2 separate regions of the Homo sapiens genome follow, and region 2 is linked to region 1. Evidence: fine-mapped expression QTL. A gene starts in region 1. The other region holds a variant in brackets. All regions are shown on one strand. Distances are from middle to middle. Region 1 holds the start of ACTN4 (actinin alpha 4). Region 2 overlaps ACTN4 (actinin alpha 4).

The links.
Region 2: its variant is fine-mapped to the expression of ACTN4 in whole blood (TOPMed, PIP 0.98).

The regions. Positions count from the first base shown.
Region 1 is chr19:38,636,910-38,651,585 of GRCh38, forward strand. It overlaps ACTN4 (actinin alpha 4), which reads left to right and starts at 10,740. Exons shown (of 21, transcript NM_004924.6): 1 at 10,740-10,998. The coding sequence starts at 10,837. EIF3K (eukaryotic translation initiation factor 3 subunit K) reads left to right here. Exons shown (of 8, transcript NM_013234.4): 8 at 1-45. The coding sequence ends at 11. RefSeq lists enhancers at 1-875, 309-448, 2,756-3,694, 12,420-12,714, 13,343-13,422 and silencers at 10,580-10,769, 11,000-11,079, 12,263-12,461, 12,420-12,714.
Region 2 is chr19:38,690,696-38,698,695 of GRCh38, forward strand. All of the region lies in intron 1 of ACTN4 (actinin alpha 4), which reads left to right. Among named protein-coding and RNA genes, the nearest start is that of ACTN4, 47 kb to the left of the region's middle. RefSeq lists enhancers at 3,024-3,615, 3,585-3,644. The variant C/A (reference allele first, on the strand shown) is at 4,777.

The sequences.
Region 1 (14,676 bases):
CCTCCCAGTAACTTCAGGTGTTTAATAAAGATGTGTTGACTCAGCCCTACTGTCTCCTCCCTGGCTTCCTGCCTCTGCCCCTTGCCCACCAGAGGGAGCTCAGGAGCAGGCCTCTGCTCTGGGTTGGCCCCCGCACCGTACCCCCAGCCCCCACCACACCACACCCCATGGCGGGGTTTCCGCCTCCTTTTTCCCCTGCTTCGACTTCCTCCCTTGCCCCACCCTACCTTCCTGACCTTTTAGGTCTTGGGTGGGGAGGGCAGCATTGAGTCAGCAAGGAGGAGGGAGTATGAATGGGATGTGGCAGCCCAGCCCTGTGGTGGAGGCTGAGCACCTCTGGGAGGAGTGAAGGTGAAGTTTCCCTCTGTCTTGATGGTGGCTCTTGCTTTGTGACCTTGGTCAAGGGACTGTGCCTCTTTTTTTTTTAGACGAAGTCTCGCTCTGTCGCCCAGGCTGGAGTGCAGTCGCGCGATCTCGGCTCACTGCACGCTCCACCTCCCGGGTTTATGCCATTCTCCTGCCTCAGCCTCCAGAGTAGCTGGGACTACAGGCGCCCGCCACCATGCTCGGCCAATTTCTTGTATTTTTAGTAGACAGGGTTTCACCGTGTTAGCCAGGATGGTCTTGATCTCCTGACCTTGTAATCTGCCTGCCTCGGCCTCCCAAAGTACTGGGATTACAGGCGTGAGCCACCGCGCCCAGCCGGGATTGTGCCTCTCTAATTCTCAGTTTCTTCATCTGCAGAAGGGGAAGAATAATGCACCCTTCTGAAACCTGTGAGGGTTTCTCCGGCCCTTGCCAGTAAAGGCCTGAGATTGGGGCCTGTCCTGTCCTGTCCTTGCTCTTAGAAAATGTGAGCCACAGGCCGGGTGCAGTGGTTCACGCCTGTAATCCCAACACTTTAGGAGGCCAAAGCAGGAGGATTGCTTGGCCAGAGTTTGAGACCAGCCTGGGCGACAGAGTGGGACTCCGTCTCAATATATATATATATATATATATATATATTTTTTTTTTTTCTTTTTCTTTTTCTTTTTTTTTTTTTTAGAGACAGAGTCTCACTCTGTCGCCCAGGCTGGAGTGCAGTGGCGCGATCTCAGCTCACTGCAACCTTTGCCTCCCAGGTTGAAGCAATTCTTCTGCCTCAGCCTCCCAAGTAACTGGGACTACAGGCACACACCTCCACGCCCGGCTAATTTTTTTGTATTTTAGTAGAGATGGGGTTTCATCGTGTTGCCCAGGCTGGTCTCGAACTCTTGGGCTCAGGCAGTCTCCCTGCTTCGACCTCCCAAAGTGCTAGGAATACACACGTGAGCCACCGCGCCTGACCAAAAAGTTTATTTTAAATAGCTAGGCATGGTGGCGCGTGTCTGTAGTCCCAGCTATTTAGGAGGCTGAGGTCGGCAAATCACCTGAGCCCAGGAGGTCAAGGCTGCAGTGAGCTGTGATCACACCACTGCACTCCAGCTTGGGTGACAGACCCTGTCTCAAAAAAGAAAATATAAGCCATTGTTAATTTCAGGCTCAGAAGTGTTTGTCACCAAGGTTGCAAGCTAGTCCTCAGTACTATTCTGTATGGAGAGACTTCATGAGAAAATTAGTATATATATATTTTTTCCTCTCAAGGTGTCATAGGTAGACAGCTCCTTCAGCCACACCATTCTTTCCAAGTCGCATGCCGCTCCCCTGGTTAGTGTTACCTGACAGGAGACCTGACTCACCTTACATGTTCATTCCCTTCTTACCTGAGGAATTTGGGGCACTCCCAGTGGCCCTTAGGCAGTGCTTTTCCCCTGTGAGCATATTGCCTGGAGGGCTAGGGGGTTGGGGGAATGCAGGAATTAAAAAGACCCAGTAGAGGCTGGTTTATGCCTGTAATCCCAGCACTTTGGGAGGCTAAGGGAGGAGGATGACTGGAATCCCTCTACGCAAAAGTAAAAATTAGCTCAGGTTGGGCATGGCGGTCCATGCATGTAATTCCAACAGTGGGAGGCTGCAGCAGGAGGATTGCTGAAAGCCAGGAGTTCGAGACCAGGTCAACAAAGCGAGACCCTGTTCCTATAAAAGTTTTAAAATTAACTGGGCCTGGCCAGGCACAGTGGCTCACGCCTGTAATCCCAACACTGGGAAGCCAAGGCAGATGGATTGCTTGACCTCAGGAGTTCGAGGCGAGTCTGGGCAACATGGTGAAACCCTGTCTCTACAAAAAACTACAAAAGAAAATAGCCAGGCATGGTGGTACACACATGTAATCCCAGCTACTCTGGAGGCTAAGGTGGGAGGATCACTTGAGCCTGGGAGGCAGAGGTTGCAGTGAGCCAAGATGGCGTCACTGCACTCCAGCCTGGGTAACAGAGTGAGACCCTGTCTCAAAAATAAGTAAGTTGGCCAGGCGCGGTGGCTCACGCCTGTAATCCCAGCACTTTGGGAGGCCGAAGTGGGCAGATCACGAGGTCAGGAGATCGAGACCATCCTAGCTAACACGGTGAAACCCCGTCTCTACTAAAACTACAAAAAAATTAGGCAGGCGCCTGTAGTCCCAGCTACTCTGGAGGCTGAGGCAGGAGAATGGCATGAACCCGGGAGGCGGAGCTTGCAGTGAGCTGAGATCGCACCACTGCACTCCAGCCTGGGCGACAGAGCTAGACTCCGTCTCAAAAAAATAAATTAAAAAAAAAAAGTAAGTAAGTAAAAATTAGCCAGGCACAGTGGTATGTGCCTGTAGTCCTGGCTACCCAGGAGTTTGAGGCTGCAATGAGCTATGATTGCACCACTGCACACCAGCCCAGGTGACAGCAAGACCCTGTCTCCAAAAAAGGAAAAGAAATGCCCTAATAGATGTTCATTACTTAGAGTAGACTGGCAGCTGCCCCTTGGTGATTTATTGATGGATGCTGGTGTGCATAAGCGTTGCCTTGGAGAGGGCAGCTGTGGTACCCAAGCTGCCAGCCGGCCTGACCTCCCTGTGTGCACTCACAGCCAGCATTCCTCAGAGGGCCCTGCCTGTGGGAGCAGACACCCCTTGCCCTGGGGCCCAGACCTCAGCAGGGCCCCAGTAGCCAGGGAGTGCCTAAATCCTGGGGACTGAACAAAAGTGTGCCTCTGCAGCTCACTGGGATAAAAAGGACTGGGAGGCCTGGCACAGTGGCTCATGCCTGTAATCCCAGCACTTTGGGAGGCCGAGGTAGGCAGATCACCTGAGGTCAGGAGTTTGAGAACAGCCTGACCAACATGGTGAAACCCCGTCTCTACTAAAAATACAAAATTAGCCGGGCGTGGTGGCGGGCGCCTGTATTCCCAGCTACTTGGGAGGGTGAGGCAGGAGAATCGCTTGAACCCGGGAGGCAGAAGTTGCAGTGACCCGAGATCGCGCCATTGCACTCCAGCCTGGGCAACAAGAGCGAAACTGCCTCAAAAAAATAATAATAAAAAGGACTGGGATGCCTCTACCACCCATGAACTTGGGCACATTAGCAAAAGGCACCCCTTCTGGGTGGGGACAACTCCCAGTTACCCACTTGGCAGGTGCCCTTATGCAGGATACAACCTGCACAATTGGCCATGGCTGCTCTGCAAGGGAAGAGGAAATGACCTTTTTCCCCTCCTCTGGGAGCCACATCTCATCCTGCCTCACTGGGCTGCTTTCACTATCAGAGGGTCATTCATACTCCGAACAGCTAGGAGGTGGCTCTGGAGAAAAACTGCCTGAGTTCACTCCCCAGCCCAGCCGCCTCAGGGTATGTGAGTTGTCTTCTCTGTACCTGTTTTACAGCTGGGGAAAGTAGTAATTGTACCCACGTCAGTAGTTAATGCCTGCAAAGAGTTTAGAACAGCTTGGTGGGTGCAGTGGCTCACGCCTGTAATCTCAGCACTTTGGAGGCCAAGGCGCGTGGATCATCTGAGGCCAGGAGTTCGAGACCAGCCTGGCCAACGTGGTGAAACCCCACCTCTACTAAAAATACAAAAATTAGCTGGGCTTGGTGGCGGGTGCCTGTAATCCCAGCTACTCAGGAGGCTGAGGCAGGAGAATAGCTTGAACCAGGGAGGTGGAGGTTGCAGTGAGCTGAGATCACGCCATTGCACTTCAGCCTGGACGACAGAGTGAGACCTTGTCTCAAAAAAATAAGCTGGGCGTGGTGTCTCACTCCTATAATCCCAGCACTTTGGGAGGCTGAAGTGGGCGGATCATGAGGTCAGGAGTTCAAGACCAGCCTGTCCAATATAGTGAAACCCCATCTCTACTAAAAAACACAAAAATTAGCTGTGTGTGGTGGCGCATGCCTGTAGTCTCAGCTATTCGGGAGGCTGAGACAAGAGAATCGCTTGAACCCGGGAGGCAGAGGTTGCAGTGAGCCAAGATCATGCCATTGCACTCCAGCCTGGGCAACAGAGTGAGACTCCGTCTCAAAAACTAATAATAAATAAATAAATAATAAATTAAAAAATAGCCGGGGCGCAGTGGCTCATGCCCGTAATCCCAGCACTTTGGGAGGCCGAGGCGGATGGATCAACTGAGGTCAGGAGTTCAAGATCAGCCTAACCAACATGGAGAAACCCCGTCTCTACTAAAAATACAAAATTAACCAGGCGTGGTGGCGCACGCCTGTAATCCCAGCTACTCGGGAGGCTGAGGCAGGAGAATCACTTGAGCCTGGGAGGTGGAGGTTGGGGTGAGCCGAGATCGCGCCATTGCACTCCAGCCTGGGCAACAAGAGCGAAACTCTGTCTTAAAAAAAAAAAAAATAGCCAGGCCTGGTGGCGCGTGCCTGTAATCCCAGCTACTCAGGACACTTGAGGTGGGAGAATTGCTTGAACCCGGGAGGTGGAGGTTGCAGTGAGCCAAGATTGTGCCACTGCACTCCAGCCTGGGTGACAGAGCGAGACTCCATCTCAAAATAAATAAATAAATAAATAAAAATAAAAGAAACTCAAATTGGTTCTGTCTCCAAATTCCATCCTGGTGGGTGCTTGTCATGCTCACTTGGGGTTCAGGGCTGCTGCTCCAGCTGCTTCCTGAGACATCTCTAGACATTGCAGTATTTGTTCATGTCCCCGCCCTGTGAGGACACACCCTCTCTAGTTGCCTTCCCTGAAGTAGTGTTAACAATGGGATACAGCATTTAATAAATTCTGACTGAGGTCTCACGGGTTCAATGGTAAACCTAAAAACGCCTGTAGGGCCCACTGGCCATACCCCTTCTCTCAGAGCCCCTCCTGGTCCCTTGGACATCAATAGACACATCAGCTATTATTACTACACTGCCCATAGATGGCTGCCAGGAAGTAGCCTCAAGGCTGACAATTAAAGGGAGGCTTTAATTTAAACTTCAATGGCTGGGGCTGTCGCCTCCATCTGGGAGCACTTGGTCTGGACGGTTTCTCAGAGTCCACCAGGAGCTGCAGCGAGGGGCAGATGGCCCATCCCCTGAGGAGTTTTTCCCCCAGGCCAGACCATGCATAAGAGTCCTGAGCTAGTTCTTCAAGTCAGGCTGGAGGAGACCGCCCTGCCCTGCCCCACTCCAGCCCAGCTCTGGAAACAGCCAACACGCCTGGGGGTCTTTGGCCAGGTCCTGGCATCTCCTAGGACATCGGGCTGCTGCCTGGGCCTCGTCCCCTTCCTCTGCTGTCACTGGATCCATCCCTTCGCGTTCCTTTGGCAGAGGCAGAGAAGCAGAGAAGGATCCTTGCAACTCCCATAGCTGGAGAAACCATAAACCATGGTGGTTGGTTTTTTTTTTTTTTTTTTTTTTTTTTGAGACAGAGTCTCCCTCTGTTGCCCAGGCTGGAGTGCAGTGGTGCGATCTCAGCTCACCGCAACTTCTGCCCCCTGGGTTCAAGTGATTCTCCTGCCTCAGCCTCCTGAGTAGCTGGGACTACAGGCGCGTGACACCACACCCAGCTAATTTTTTGTATTTTTAGTAGAAACGGGGTTTTACCATGTTAGCCAGGATGGTCTCGATCTCCTGACCTTGTGATCCGCCTGCCTCGGCCTCCGGAAGTGCTGAGATTACAGGCGTGAGCCACCGCACCTGGCAATATTTTATTTTATTTATATTTTTGAGACAGGTTCTCACTTTGTCACCCAGGCTGAAGTGCAGTGGTGCGATCTCAGCTCACTGCAACCTCGACCTCCTGGGCTCAAGTGATCCTCCTGCCTCAGCCCTCCAGGTAGCTGGGACCACTGGCATGCAACACCACACTTGGCTAATCTTTTGTATTTTTTGTAGAGACAGGGTTTCACCATGTTTGCCAGGCTGGCCTTGAACATCCCATGCCCGATGGGATGATATTTTAAATCAGGTGATCCGGGAAAGTCTCACTGAGGATGTGGTATTTCCACAGAGACCTATAGGAAATGGGGCTGTGAGCCCTAGGGACTCAGTGTCTGGGGAAAGTGTTCCTGGGAGTCGTGACTCCACCTCACAAGTACAAAGGCCTCATCAGAGGCTGAGTTTGGCACCTGGTGTGCTTGAGGGACAGCAAGGTGGGGGGTACTCGAAGGCTTTTTTTTTTTTTGAGACAGTCTTGCTCTGTCACCCAGGCTGGAGTGCAGTGCCGTGATCTCAGCTCATTGTAACCTCCACCTCCCAGGTTCAAGCAATTCTCCTGCCTCAGCCACCCGAGTAGTTGGGATTATAGGCGTGCACCTCCACACCCGGCTAATTTTTGTATTTTTAGTAAAGACGGGATTTCATTATGTCGTCCAGGCTGTTCTCAAACTCCTGGTGTCAAGTGATCTGCCCGCCTCAGCCTCCCAAAGTGCTGGGATTACAGGTGTGAGCCACCATGCTAGCTGACTCTAAACTGTTTCATAAACTAGGTTGAGGCAGGGCTTGGGTGGCTCACACATAATCCCAGCCTGTAATCCCAGCATTCCCTGAGGTAGGAGGATCACTTGAGGCCAGGAGTTCCAGGCCAGCCTAAGCAACCTAGCGAGACCACCCCCACACACTCCCCTCACCCCCACCACTTGTCTCTACAAAAAATTTAGCAATTGCCGGGCACAGTGGCTCACGCCTGTAATCCCAGCACTTTAGGAGGCCGAGGTGGGCGGATCACAAAGTCAGGAGATCAAGACCATCCTGGCTAATACGGTGAAACCCCGTCTCTACTAAATATACAAAAAATTAGCTGGGCATGGTGGCAGGTGCCTGTAGTCCCAGCTACTTGGGAGGCTGAGGCATGAGAATGGCGTGAACCAGGGAGGCGGAGCTTGCAGTGAGCCAAGACCGTGCCACTGCACTCCAGCCTGGGCGACAGAGTGAGACTCCGTCTCAAAAAAAAATAGAAATTAGCCAGGCGTGGTGGGGTGCACCTGCAGTCCCAGCTACTTGGGAGGCTAAAGCAGGAGGATCATTTGGGCCCAGGAATTTGAGGCTGCAGTGAACTGGAACGGTGTCACTGTACTTCAGCCTGGTGACATAGCGAGTTGCTGTGTCAAACACCATCACCACCACCAGCACCAAGAACAATATCAACAAAACTTGGCTGAGCTGGATGTGGTGGTACGTGTTCACAGTCGCAGCTACTCAGAAGGCTGAGGTAGGAGAATCAAGAGTCTGAGCTCAACTTGGGCAAAATATTGAGAACCCTGTCTCCAAAAACAAAAAACTAAAACACTGGGCTGGCCGGGTAGAGTGGCTCATGCCCGTAATCCCTGCACTTTGGGAGGCTGAGGCAGGCAGATCACCTGAGCTCAGGAGTTCAAGACCAGCCTGGCCAACATGGCAAAACCCCTCTTTACTAAAAATATAAAAATTAGCCGGGCATGGTGGCATATGCCTGTAATCCCAGCTACTCTGGAGGCTGAGACAGGAGAATCGCTTGAACTCGGGATGCGGAGGTTGCAGTGAGCCGAGATCATGCCACTACACTCTGGTCTGGGTGACAGGGCGAGACTCCACCTCCAATAAAAAAAAAAAAAGGAAAAAAACACTGGGCTGGGCTGGGCTGGGCTGGGCAAGGCAGGGCAGGGCAGACTCCTCTGCAGCCTTTCTTCCTTTCCTTGACTTTGACTGTTACCCTGAGCGTGGAGCCACAGGAAGGTTTGAACAGAGGAGGGAGGAATGTGATCTGACTCAGTCATTCATTCACAGGCTCCCTCCAGCTTCTCCTGGGAAAGAGAAGGGGGTGGGAGGGGGAGCTGGGAGACAGTGGGGAACTGCTGCAATGGCCCAAGGGAAGGCGAGGCGAGGGTAGACAGAACCTGGGTGGCGCAGTGGGGCAGGGGGAAGTGGGTGGGTTCTGTGTATTCTTTCAAGATGGAATGACAGAATTTCCTGAAGAACTGGATGGGGTTGTGAAGACAAAGAGGCATTAAGGATGACCGCAAGGTCTGTAGCCTCAGCAACTGCAAGGCTGGAGGTGCACGAATTGAAGAGGGATGACTGTGGGATGGGATGACCAAGCTTGGGGGGAAGATCAGGAACTCTATTTTGGATATTTATTATTATTATTATTTGAGATGGAGTTTCGCTCTTGTTGCCCAAGCTGGAGTACAATGGTGCAATCTTGGCTCACCACAACCTCCGTCTCCCAGGTTCAAGCTATTCTCCTACCTCAGCCTCCTGAGTAGCTGGGATTACAGGCATGTGCCACTATGCCTGGCTAATTTTGTATTTTTAGTAGAGACGGAGTCGTTGGCCCGGCTGGTCTTGAACTCCTGACCTGGGGTGATCCGCCCACTTCGGCCCCCCAAAGTGCTGGGATTACAGGCGTGAGCCACCACACCTGGCCGGATATTTATTTATTTATTTTTATTTTTATTTTAGACGGAGTCTTGCTCTGTCGCCCAGGCTGGAGTACAGTGGCGCGATCTCGGCTTACTGCAGCCTCTGCCTCCCGAGTTCCAGTGATTCCCCTACCTCAGCCCCCTGGGTAGCTGGGATTACAGGTGCATGCCACCAAGCCCGGCTAATTTTTGTATTTTTAGTAGAGACGGGGTTTCACCATGTTGGCCAGGCTGGCCTCTAACTCCTGACCTCGTGATCTGCCTGCCTCGGCCTCCCAAAGTGCTGGGATTACAGGCATGAGCCACTGCGCCCGGCCATTTATTTTTAATGTAAACATTTTTTTGTAGAGATGAGATCTTGTTATGTTACCCAGTCTGGCCTCAAACTCTTGGGCTCAAGCACTCTTCCAGCCTTGACTCCCCAGAGTGCTGGGATTGCAAGAGTAAGCCACCAGTGCCTGGCTGAATATTTAAATTTAAGATGCTTCCTGATGCAGTGGCTCGCACCTTTGTTTAAATGTCTGCCTTCTCCATGAAGCCTACCTGAGTAGTTTATTTGCATTCCAGCCCATGCTTGATTTTTCTCCAAATACTCAACACCTTGGAATATACAATACTACCTATTTTTTACTTTTATGTATATTTTTGAGACAGGATTTCGCTTCTGGAGTGCATTGGTGTGATCACAGCTCACTGCAGACTGGAACTCCTGGGCTCAAGTGATGTCCCTTCCTCAGCCTCCTGAGTAGCTGGGACTACAGGTGCACACAGCCATGCCCAGTGAATTTTTACATTTCTTGTAGAGACAGGTTCTTGTTATGTTGCCTAGGCTGGCCTTGAACTCTTGGGCTCAAGCCATCCTCCCGCCTCAGCTTCCCAAAGTGCTGGGATTACAGGTGTGAGCCCCTGTGCCTGTCTACATATTTTTTAAAATTTTGAGTGTTGAGGCCAGGCGCAGTGGCTCATGCCTGTAAGCCCAGCACTTTGGGAGGCCGAGGTGGGCGGATCACCTGAGGTCGGGAGTTTGAGACCAGCCTGACCAACATGGAGAAACCCCGTCTCTACTAAAAATACAAAATTAGCCAGGAGTGGTGGCACATGCCTGTGATCCCAGCTACTCGGGAGGCTGAGGCAGGAGAATAGCTTGAACCTGGGAGGCGGAGGTTGCAGTGAGCCCAGATCACGCCATTGCACTCCAGCCTGGGCAACAAGAGCGAAACTCCGTCTCAAAAAAAAAAATTTGTGTGTTGGTTGGGCGCGGTGGCTCACGCCTGTAATTCCAGCACTTTGGGAGGCTGAGGCGGGAGGATCGCTTGAGCTCAAGAGTTCAAGACCAGCCTGGCCAACATGGTGAAACCCCGTCTCTACTAAAAAAATACAAAAATTAGCCGGGTGTGGTGGAGCATGCCTGTGTTCCCAGCTACTCGGGAGGCTGAGGCAGGAGAATTGCTTGAATCCGGGAGGCGGAGGTTGCAGTGAGCCGAGATCGCGCCACTGCACTCCAGCCTGGGAGACAGAGCGAGACTCCGTCTCAAAAAATAATAAAAATAAAAGTAGATTTGTGTGTATGTGGCTTCCTTTACTAGAAGGTAGTTTCATGAAAGTTGGGATTTTTTTCTGTTTTTAGTGCCTGCGTAAAACATAGTCTGGCACAGAATAGGTGTTCAATAAATATTTGTTGAATTTGTGTCGCTGAATGGGAACCCGGTGCAGTGCATTCCAAGCCTGAGCTGGTTCAGGTCCGATGGCGGGGCCTGCCCTTATGAATCATTCATGATCTGGCCCCGCCCATACGCGAACGACGCGCGCGTTCACGCCGGAGAGGGGGCGCGGCTCGCCCCCGGGCTGAGTCGGGCGGCCAGGAAGCGGGACTCTGCGCAGGCGCCAAGCTCCGGAGCGCGGCCTTGGTGCCTTTTCTGGTTTGGCAGGCGCGCGCGCGCGGGAGGGCGGCAACCTCGGCGCTGTGCGCAGGCGCGGCGGGCAGTGCGCAGGCGCGGGCGGAGGGCGGGCTGAAGCAGCTGAAGCGGCGGTAGCGGCGGCGGCTCGGGCAGAGGGGCGGGAGCTGAGGCGGGAGCGGACAGGCTGGTGGGCGAGCGAGAGGCGGCGGAATGGTGGACTACCACGCGGCGAACCAGTCGTACCAGTACGGCCCCAGCAGCGCGGGCAATGGCGCTGGCGGCGGGGGCAGCATGGGCGACTACATGGCCCAGGAGGACGACTGGGACCGGGACCTGCTGCTGGACCCGGCCTGGGAGAAGCAGCAGCGCAAGGTGCGCGGCCCGCGGGCCGGACGGGCTGGAGGGGCTTTTCTGAGGGGGCCCGGGGAGGGGTGGGAGGTCCTGAAAGGTAACTGGAGCGTCTGTGATGGGAACGGGGGGGTCCCGAGAAGGAATTGGCGGGTCCGGGAAGGGAATTGGAGTCCTGAGGAGGAATCGCCGAGCTAGAGGAAGGAATTGGGAATCTGAAAAGAGAATTGGCGGCTGGGTGGGGAATATGGGAGTCAAATAAAAGGAATCGGGAAGGCTGATGAAGGATTTGGAGGGTCTGGGCGTGCCATTAGGGGAAACCGAGGAGATGACTGGGCAGGCTGAAATGGAACTGGGATCCGAGGCGGGCTTGAAGGGTCGGAGCATGGGTTGGGGGTGCTGGGAGGAGAATCAGGGGAGGCTGAGAAGGGAATTTCTGGGTCTGGGAAGTGTGAGGAGGAGCTTGAGTGTGGAGGGGTTGGTTATTTGGAGAGCAGAAAGATCTGAAGGAGATTGGAATTGGGGGAGCCTCAGGTTGGGGGAGTTATAAAGGGGATGAAGAATCAAGTGTGAGGATGGAGTGGAGATTGTGGGGTCTGAAGACGGGTGGGAAGACTAGGGAGGCTGGGAAGATGAAAACAGGGGCTAAGGGTAGAATTGAGCATGAAAAGACATGGGCTTAGGGTGTGAGGAGGGTAGAGGTGCCAGGACTGGGGGTCTGAGGAGGGTGGGGTGCGGAAGGAAGAAGTTAAGGGGCCCGTGAATCAGACGTTTTTGAAGGGGGTGAGATTTATTTGTGGTGCCCTGTTCCAAAGGGGAGAAGATTAAGAGATAGGAGGAATAATAAGAGGAATTGATGAGGGATGGAGAAGCCGAAGTAGAGGGGATACGGAGAGTGGGGATAATTTGGGGAGGGATTTCTAAAGAATTGATGGGAAGCTGAAAAGCTAAAGCGTTGGAGAGAATGAGGAAGTGTAGAGGGAGAAGGTGAGATCGGTGGGAGGGAGGGTGAGCTGGAATGGTGGATAATGGGAGAGAGGTTCGTTTAGGAAAATGAAAGTCTCATTAGAAAGGGAATGCGTAATGGATAGACTGAGAAAGGAATTTGAGGAGGGGGTGCTGGCTCCTGGAGGTGCAGTCCCGGGACTGGAGAGCGTGTGTGTGTCGTGCAGGCAGAATGAGTTTGGGGAGGAAGCGTTGAGAGTGTCCAGGAAGAATTGTGTCTTTTTTGGAGAGACCGGAGGTAGGTGAAGGGATCCTGAAGCAGAGACTGTGTTCAGGTGGCACTGTTTTTTTGGGGGGCGGGGGGGGCAACTTGGTAGGGCCCCACAGCAGTGAAAAGGTGATCAGAAGTGGAGTGGGATCCCCGAGCGAGGTGTCAGTGTCTGTGGGGGGGGGATAAATCCAGTGTGGTTGAGGGGGGAGCTCTGAGTGTGTGCAGGAAGAGCTAAAGAAAGGAGCGTGGTGAGTGGGTGTGTGTGGGGGGAAGGGGTTGTTCAGAAGTTTTGTGCGTGAAATGGGTGGGAGGTACTTGAAGTTGGAAGCATTTCGTGGGATCTGGAGATCTGGATTTTCTTTCCAGATTTGTTACTGATTCGCTCTGTGGCCTTGGACAAGACCCTTGAACTCTCCGGGCAGTTTTGTTATCTGCAAAATGCAAAGGGATCCGAGGGTTCCCTGCGGTGATTCTGTTAATAAAGAGGGATGTGTGTAGAGTTGGGACTTTGGACAGGGCTCTGAAGGTTTGGGAGAGTGAGTTTGGTGGAGATTTTTCAGGAACAGGCTACAGGGCTTTGAGTGGTGACCTGGCAGAGTGGGGAGTGACTGGAAGCCTCTCGAGGGCGCGAGTTGGTGGCCAGGAGCTTGGCACAGGCAGCCTAGCCCAGGCTGGAGGGGAAAGGGTGGGAAGGGTGGAAGGAGCAGCTGTTCCAAGGCAGCCTGAGGTGGGGCCGGGCATAACCTTGGGTCCATTACCAGCGTTGCTTGAATTTCCTCATCCGTAGTAACTGAGGGGCATGGCAGTGGCTTGGTGGGAGGGGTGTCCTTATCCGTGGCCCCACCTACTGCAGGATGGACAGGTTGCGATAGTTGGCATAAATTCACTTTTTGAGGGGAAGGTGAGATCTGTTCTGGAGTCTCAACAATAATTTATTGCCTGAGGCAGTGCCAGGTTGGAAAAGGTTGCCAAGAGACCTGGAAAGTTGGGAGGGAGCAGGGGCCACAGTGGTGGTTTTGAGAATGTCTAGGCTTTGTCTTCTGCAGCTGAAGGTGCTGGAGAAAATAAACCCCTCCCCCTTTTTTCTCAGGTGATAAGGGTGGGGGGACCTTCCTTTTCTCTCCCTTCCTGTCTTCTGCCACTCCTCAAGTGACTCCTTTTGCGAGCCGGGTTTCACTCCCTCCCGAGAGTTAGGGTGTGGGCTTTGTTCGTGGTTATAGTGTCCCTTGCCTACAGGGTGAGGCTGGGGCACCATTCAGGCCCTGGGTGGAAACCAGGACTCCCCAGAACCTCCAGGCCTTGCTGCCATGTGTCATTCTCTTACCTCCCAGCTCCCTTCCTCTGGGGCCGGGCAGGTTTGAGGGAAAAGGGTGGCTCACAGAGTCCGCTAATACCATCTGCTTTCGTGTCTCAGCCAGAGCCAGATTCTAGTACCTCCTGCTTTACACCTCCTCCAGCAAATATTTACCCTTAGCTGCTCTGTGGGGGAAACTACTGCTTCACCTCTGTGCCCTTTCCTGTTATGGGGTAGGGATTCTTTTTGAAATGGGGGAAGGAGTAATGGAAAGGAATACACCAATCTGTGTGGCTCTCTACCTTCCTACTAAGAAACATCCCTGCACTCCCAGGCTGGCTGGGTTGTTTGTTTGTTTGTTTGTTTGTTTTTGGAGACGGAGTTTTGCTCTTGTTGCCCGGGCGTGATCTTGGCTCACCGCAACCTCCGTCTCCCGGGTTCAAGCGATTCTCCTGCCTCAGCCTCCCGAGTAGCTGGGAATACGGGCATGCGCCACCACGCCTGGCTTTTTGTATTTTTAGTAGAGACGGGGTTTCTCCATGTTGGTCGGGCTGGTCTCAAACTCCCGACCCCAGGAGATCCGCCCGCCTCGGTCTCCCAAAGTGCTGGGATTACAGGAGTGAGCCACTGCACCCAGACTGGCTGGGTTTTTTCTACATTGCAGTGTTGCTTTAGTGAATGACAGATTGCCCTTCTTGCCTCTCCAAGGCTGAGCCACTGGGCACGGGAAGAATGACAGTCCTGGGGGTTCTGTACATGCATACTCCAAAAAAATATGCATCCAGAACAGCTGTAGGCCCTCAAAGTGGGTAGAATTGAATTCTTCTAGGAATTAAGCAAGAGTTGGCCCAAATCAGAGGGGACGTGTGTCTCACTTCTGCTTGGAAGCCCTTTGCTCTGACTTCTAGGGACCCCTGTAACCCGTAAGTAGGTTATGCAACGGTTTTTACATGAGAGGGCCATGAGTGTTCTCCTGGCGGGATGGAGAAGCATTGTTCTGGTCTTTGAGCAAATTCTTGAGCAATTACAGTTCTGGGCCACAGTTCCCTCTCCCAATTTCTAAAAGTGGCCTGGGTAACCTCATCACCCTCTGTTGTCCTGGAAGGGTGAGATCTCTTGAAGGTTATGCCAAATCTCATTACAGCAAGAAGAAATGACTCACTTGCTAAGTTTTCGTGTTCATTGAAACATC
Region 2 (8,000 bases), 50 kb after region 1:
CCCAAAGTGCTGGGATTACAGGCGTGAGCCACCTTGCCTAGCCTTGTTCTGGAATTAGTGGTGATTGTTGCACGATCTTGTGAATATACTAAAACTCCCTGAATTTTATGTAAAAGGGTGAATTTTTTGGTATGTTATGTGAATTACATTTCAATTTTTAAAAATTGATTCTCCAAATTATGTACATATTTAAAGAGTACATGAAAGAGAGGGAGAGAAAGAAAAGCTGGATGCGAGATGCCGCAACCTGATTCCACTCACTCCTAGATTTGTTGAGTACCTGCTATGTGAAAGGTACCAGTCCAGGCAGTGGGTTCCCACAGCAAACAGAACCCTCCTCTGGGGAGCTTATGCTGCACTTGGGAGGGAGACTGGTTATGAACAAAGAACATAGTTTTTGATGATGAAAAGTGCAGTGAGTAAAACAATGCAGTGTGAGGCCGGGTGTGTTGGCTCACGCCTGTAATTCCAGCACTTTGGGAGGCCGAGGTGGGCGGATCACCTGAGGTTGGGAGTTCGAGACTAGCCTGACCAACATGGAGAAACTCCGTCTCTACTAAAAATAAAAAATTAGCCAGGCCTGTAATCCCAGCTACTCGGGAGGCTGAGGCCAGAGAATAGCTTGAACTCAGGAGGCAGAAGTTGCGTTGAGCTGAGATCATGCCATTGCACTCCAGCCTGGGCAACAAAAGTGAAACTCCGTCTCAAAAAAAAAAAAACAAAAAAAACAAAAAAAAAAACCCAACAACGCAGAGTGGAGTGATAGCCTAGGGGAGATGACAGAGTCCAGGAAGGCCTCCTGGGTTGCTGACATTTGAGGCAAGTCCTGAGTGATGAGACAAAACCAGCTCTATAAAGAGCTAGACGAAAGTCTTAGACCAGTATTTCTCATGAGGAGGAGACAGCACTCCAAAATCCATCCTTTGGCCTGGCGCGGTGGCTCACGCCTGTAATCCCAGCACTTTGGGAGGCTGAGGCGGGTGGATTACCTGAGATCAGGAGTTCGAGACCAGCCTGGCCAACATGGCAGAAACCCGTCTCTACTGAAAATATAAAAATTAGCCGGGTGTGATGGTGGGTGCCTGTAATGCCAGCTACTCGGGAGGCTGAGGCAGGAGAATCACTTGAACCCGGGAGGTGGAGGCTGCAGTGAGCCGAGATCATGCCACCGCACTCCAACCTGGCGACACAGCGAGACTCTGTCTCAAAACAAACAAACAAACAAAATCCGTCCTTTGCAGCAGCAACACGCACGCTTTCTGGCACCTCAAAGGGGATTGTCCAAGACTGGAACACTGGCTGCAGGGAGGGGGCCGGGTGCAAAGAGCTGGTTTCTGGGTGGACACGCAGGACCTTTGGAATGCTCGCTACCCCACTCAGCAGTATTTATACCTCTTCTCCAACTGCGAAGTCAGAGCTTTTTCATGCAGGCTGAGAAAACTCCGAATAAGGCAACTTCAGGCCAGGACATAAGACGCATTCCATATTTCACTGTAATTGCTTTCAAATTAGGTTATGTCGTCATGTAACAGGCACACACAGTGCACTTGCTTTGCCCCTGGCTGGGGTTGGGTCCTGGACAGGCTGCCCCGTGTGTCGCTGAACTGCCGCAGTGCTAGCCCTGATTGCCTGGGCAGTAGGGCTGTCTGCGTCCCACGTTGCTGCACCCATCTAATTTGTGGCTGTGTTATTGTGACCTGCTCGTTTTCTGTTCTTTCAACCTGCTTCCTGGCTTTTATCTCCTTCAGAATCTGGTGGCAGTGGATCTTCAAAAAGTGCTCAGGTGTGCAGTCTCACAGGCCAGAGGCTCCACGGGCCCCCTTGCCAGGGCGAGCATCTCTGCCTGTGCCGCTGGTAACCCAGATTCCAGAAGGCTTAGCCGTCTGGCCCTGAAAGCGCCTTTATAGTTGGTGATGAAGCCCATGGGCTGGGGAGCCGTTTCTGCTTTCAGGAACTGAAAAGATGCCCCAGTGGGGCTAGGCCTTGCCTGAGGTCTGGCAATAGCCTGCCAGATGGGTGATAAGAAGGCCTACCCAGGTGATAAGCCTACCCAGGAATAAATAGCTGTACCTCCCCTGTGTCCAAGCCCTGGACACCCTTCCCTAGGACCCATGGAAGCAGGAACCATGGGCAGCGTCAGAGGCCACAGCAGGCAAGGTGGAAGTTCAGGAGGTGGGACGGCGCCCTCCCCCTCAAAGCAACTGATGCCCCAGCGGAGCGACAAACCCTACACGGTATTTCAGAGCCAAGGTTTGAAAACTCCCAGGGTGCTAGGGAGCTCCGTCTGGCCTCCGGGTACCTGGGGTTGGGGCTGGCTGTGGCCAGTTGCAGTCAACCCTGAGCCTGGGCAAAATGCATGCAGGCTGGTCCTCCTGGGTGATATCCTGCTAGGCGGGTGGGCAGTGTACACGGCAGAAGAGGGTTGCGGCATGAGGCAGCAAACGTTTTTTTCTAAAATCTTGTCAAGCGTGGGGTCCGTGGAATCCACATGTGAGCATCAGCCTGGTGGGTGGGGAGAGTGAAGCCTGCGATCCAGTCTGGATCATGTGCTACACAGTGCAGAGCCGGCATGCTCACCCCTCCTGAGGGATCGCTCGAGCCTATTTCTAGGCCCAAAGCGACTTTGCAAGAGACTCCCTTTATTCTGGGCTTAGTGGAATTCCAGCTTCCAACAGCCATTTCCCTCCACCCCCTTCAGTTCTGAGAACATGTTTTGTAACAGGAAGGCAGGAAGAAAAGAGAAGGCGAGTTTGTTCAGCTGGGTCAGCCGCATCCCACCAAGGCCCTTTCTTCCCTCCAGCTCACCATCGCTCTGCCCACTGGAACCACTCGGTTGCCCTGTGTCTGCCGAATGTTTGTTTCTTAATCAGCGCCCCAGAGTAGAGAGGGCTTTGCCTCTTCGGGTTGAGGGAGGGAATCATTGATGAATGGCTCATTAAAGCCCACTGCTGCCACATTCCTGGGTGCTTAGGTCACCTCCTGAACAATATCCATCATTCATTCACCTACCGCCCCACATCCTGGCGGCTGGGAGGGGTCCCTGTGACGCAGGAAGGACTTTATGACCAGAGATGCTAGGTCTCCGTCTCCCTCCTGCAGCCCACAGTGACAAAGCAGAAACTGCTCTTGGGGCCCCCTGAAGCCCGCCTTAGCTGGGTCACCATGGGCCTTGGCACACGGAGGGGTGACAGTGGATCCCAACTCAACTGACAAGCTTGCCTTTCTCTGTTCTTCCACCCCCCTTCCCCGCACTCACACCCTGTGCTATTTTAGCAACCAGAGAAGCCTCTTTAATAGGCTGCCCGTGTGCAGGGGCAAGCTCTGAAGCCTCCTCTCTGTGGTTTGGTTCACATGTGTTCTCAAAGACAGATGAGTCCACATCCTTCCTTCCTCCCTAGATAGGTCAAGGGCTGGGTGCAGGCTGCCTTCACAGGAGGGCCAGGGACAGGCTGGGAGGAGCGGGGCCACCTTTTGCGAAGCGGGTGATCTGCTGGGGCGTTGCTCTGCCTGCCTGCCTTGTTCTCTGAGTTTACCTCTAGCTTGGGGACCAAGGGTGGGCTGGGGCCTTCTTTTTTTTTTTTTGAAACCGAGTCTTACTCTGTCTCCCAGGCTGGAGTGCAGTGGCGCGATCTTGGCTCACTGCAACCTCTACCTCCCAGGTTCAAGCGATTCTCCTGTCTCAGCTTCCCGAGTAGCTGGGTTTATAGGAGCCCGCCACCACGCCCAGGTAATTTTTGTATTTTTAGTAGAGACGAGGTTTCACCATGTTGGCCAGGCTGGTCTTGAACTCCTGACCTCAAGTGATCCGCCCGCCTCGGCCTCCCAAAGTGCTGGGATTACAGGTGCGAGCCACTGCGCCCGGCCCTGGCTGGGGGCTTCTTGACCTGACTCTGCTGTCTCTCCCTCACTGGCCAGCACCTCCCATTCTACTCAGACATCGTGGAATGAATGCCCACCCCGTGTTTGTATGTATCATCTGTGTCTGTGTGACATTAAGCAAGTCACTGAACCTCTCCCTGCCTCAGTTTCCTCATCAAATGGAGATATATCGCATGTGATCATGGGGTTGGAGGTTTTAAAGAGTTGCTAATGTGTAAATAGTAAGAACTAGCAATTAGCCGTTATAGCATAATTACCTTTAATATGTCATGCCCCCCGCACCCCCGTGCTGAATGTAATTTTGCGGGGGGGCGGGTTGAGACAGGGTCTGGCTCTGTCACCGAGGCTGGAGTGCACTAACACAATCTCAGCTTACTGCAACCTCTGCCTCTCAGGCACAAGCTGTCTTCCCACCTCAGCCTCTCGAGTAGCTGGGACTACAGGCGCTCAGTACCACGCCTGGCTAATTTTTGTAGTTTTTGTAGAGATGGGGTTTTGCCATGTTGCCTAGGCTGATCTCAAACTCCTGTGCTAAAGCAATCCTCCCGCCTCGGCCTCCTAAAGTGCTGGGATTACATGGTGTGTGCCACCATGCCTGGCTGGCCAGAATGTAAATGATAACTGTTTTGCTTCCTCCTGTGTCCAGTACATAATAGGGCTCCAAGTCAGTATTTGTGAGGCAGGTGCATGCCTCTTAGTTGCGGTCCTGAGGGCATGGCCACTGCCACGTTCTGGACAGTCAGAGTCGCTGCTGCCCCTGGAAGATGACCGCGATCATGAAGCCCAGGAGAGCTCGATGCTTTTTGCCTTTCCCTCCTCCCACAGAGGGCTGGCAGCTCTGGTTCCTCCCAAATGAAATAGAAACCTTGAGTTTGCATTTCTTCTTTGGCGTGCCGG[C/A]AGGGCACCTCTGCCTTCCTCTTCCTGCCAGGGGGAGGAAGTTTCTCTCAGGGGCTCTTCACCCTGCTTTATTCCTGGCCATCACACATTGACCCTTGTCCCCTTCGGCTCTTTCCCTGCATGGCAGGGACAGCATGACCGTTTAATGGCTTTGTGAGGCCAGCATGCCAGCCTCACTTCTTTACTCCCTTCCTTCTCGGAGTGGGCTCTGTCCCTTCTGCAGGAGGGCTTTGGCACATGCTCTTCCCAGTATCTGGAAGGTCTCCCTCATTTTTATCTTATTAACTCCTCATCCTTCAGCTCAGAGTTTGAGAATGACTTCTTCAAGGACACCTTTCTGTGTCTGCCTCACCAGTCGCTTGGTGCCCCCCCACCCCGCCACCATGCTGACCGCACTCTTCAGCTCCCATCCCAGGGGAGGTGACACAAACTCGGCCCCAGGAGCCCAGCACCTGGCTTTAAACCCAGCTCTGTAACTTTCTAGGTGTGTGACTGATGGGAGCAAGCCACTTCACCTCTCAGGCCCTCCGTTTCCTCATCTGCAAAATGGAGGCAGTACTAGCACCTCCCTCCAGAGATGATTACGAGGGTGACAGAATTAGTAAGTGACCAAGTGCCTCGAGCAGTGCCCGCCCCTAGTAGACTCTATGGAAGTGTCTGCTGCAGTTATTGCTGTTATTATTACCACTTTTCCTAAGGGCGTTATTTCTGGAGTGGACTGATCGCTTGATTAATGAGATCAGACCTGGAGCCTCATGAGAGTGTCTGCTTTTGCTCACTGTTATGGATTCAGCACAGGGCCTGGCCCTCTGCTGACCCCCAGCATATGCTTGTCCAGAGAATGAATATGTACGGACCCATGGTGGCCTGGGGCATCATGAGGTCGGCTGCCCACATTCTGAGAATTTTGCATGGTGGAGGGCGGCGTGGTGGGCGCATAGGGCCCCCATCTATAGAAACCACCTCTCCACACCATCCACCCCACGCAGCGTAGTCTAAACCGGGTAGGGAGAGGAAGGATGGAAGCAGAGTGTTATTTTTGTAACCAAGTAGAAGAAGCGATGAATTTTTAATGTCCCATTCGAACTCCAGCTCCTACTCACCAGTCTCTCCGCATGGAGAAGTGGCCGTCATGGTCGACCTGTTCCCAAGGGTGGCCTTGTGAGTGCAGGCTCTCCTCACCAGAGCTGAGGGCTTTGTGAACCTCTGATGTCAATAGATGCCCCTCATCTTCCAGGAGGACAAAACAGGGCAAAGCAAGACATGGGGTGAGAACAGGAGTGCATCAGTGGGGTTCCCCAAGCCTGTGTCAGGTCCGGATCTGGGTGGGAGTTCCCTTCTGCGTCATCCAGGCCAGGCGAGTGGGCATCCTCCCTGAGCACCTGTGCTTGGGGCTTTGCCTGTGTCAGTCAGGAAGACAGAGTACACGGAAGAGTTACCATTGCTTTCAGAGCAAACCTTCCTTTGACATGCATTTAACACAGCACGGAGTGATTGACATGTGTCCTTGTGTTTAATCCCTATCTTAACCTCTCGGTTACTGTCCTGTTTATCAGTGAGGAAACTGAGGCTTATTGCTTGCCTGAGGCCTCAGTGGCAGAAGCAAGATGTGAATCCGCACCTGTGTGATGCCCAAGCCAGAGCTCTTGTTTACTACCCAGAGAAGATGAGCACAGGTGGGATGTACGTATGGAGGGCGGGTAGGGCAGCAGCCCCTCTGAGGACAGGTGGCCAGAACCCAAGCGGCGAGGTTTGTTCACAGCCTCCACAGGGTGGGGTGGGGCCATCCGCAGAGGGTCTCCTGCCATCCCATTTTCCCTGCATACCAGTGGGTGGTCTGAGAGCCTTTGCAGAGAAGAGACTGGATCTCAGCACGTGCTTATGTGCGTGTGTACATGCACACACATGCGTGTGATTCATCTGGCTCTTACTTTATGCCAAGGAGCCTGTCACATGCTTTAAATGTATTTTCCCTAGTTTAATTCTTAGAGCACACTGCAGGAGGTAGATTCTGATAAATCCATCTTACAGGGAAGGAAACAGACTTAAGTAGGTAAAGTCACTTGGTTGAAAACATGGAATGAGTAAGCCAAGGGGCAGGTATTCAAACCCAAACCCAGGTCTGTGCCCCTGCAGAGCCTGCAGGAGCAGCCCACACAGGCCAAGGCTGTGAGGGGTGCTGTTTGCACGCGTGCGTGGCCCTCCCTGCAGCCCAGGTGCCTAGGTCTGGGCCTGGCAACACCAGAGCACGGGGCCTTGCCCTCGGGGAACAGCCCTCTTTTGTCCTCAGGCTGTGGGATGTGTCTTGGCTACTTTGCTGCCCAGCAGTGCCTGCTCTCAGGCACATGTGAGAGTAGAGGCCTAGCATCCGTGGCCACTTCCTTCCCAGCCCATTTGCTGCTGCCCTTTGCTCTGCAGGGCTGCTGGGCTCCTGGGCTCCACGCCTGCTTGCTGCCTGCCATCAAGGCTGGCAGTGCTCTGGGGCTGTAAAGGTGCAGGCGCCGTACTTCCCAACCCCTGGAGCTCGCACATGGTAGGAGAGAAAGCTCATGTGCATGCAACATCCAATAAGACTAAAAGTGACTGGGGGTTGCTACGGGAGAGGTGCTGAGGGTGGGCCGGGGACAGAGCAGGCACACTGTGGAGGGGGTGGGCAGGACTCCTGAGACCAGGGCAGGGAGGGAGGAGATGCTGGGAGGCACAGGGCCATCCAGAGAGCTGCCACTTCCTGAGCATTGCCATGCACGCTGCAGGCATGGCCATCTTGAGTCCTCACACTGCCCGTGGCCTAGGTGGGGTCTTCATCCCCACGTTGCAGAGGAGGAAATGGAAGTTAGGAAGGTTAGGTGACGTGCCCACATGAGTGGTGTAAGCATGGTTCCCGCCCTGGGCTCTCTGAATTCAGTATTGTATGGGGGAGGCTGGGAAGGTGAGTTAGTACTCTCCGCAGTGAGAACCTGCCTTGGCTCCCCTCCCCTCAAGGAGTTCATAGCCGTGGGAGGGAGGGAGACAAGAACTGTTGGAGACAAGAACTGTTAGAGACCAGAGAGCAAGGGCGTGATGTGGTCTGCAGGGAGGAGGCTGTCTGAGGCAGAACCGGGTCAGGGAGGCCATGGTGCGGGTACCCTCCAGGCACGGCATTTGGCCTGACTTTTGAGGGGTGCCCAGGGTTGGCTACATGGCGGGGCGGAGGTATCTTTAGTGGGGGAACAGCGTTGTGCCAC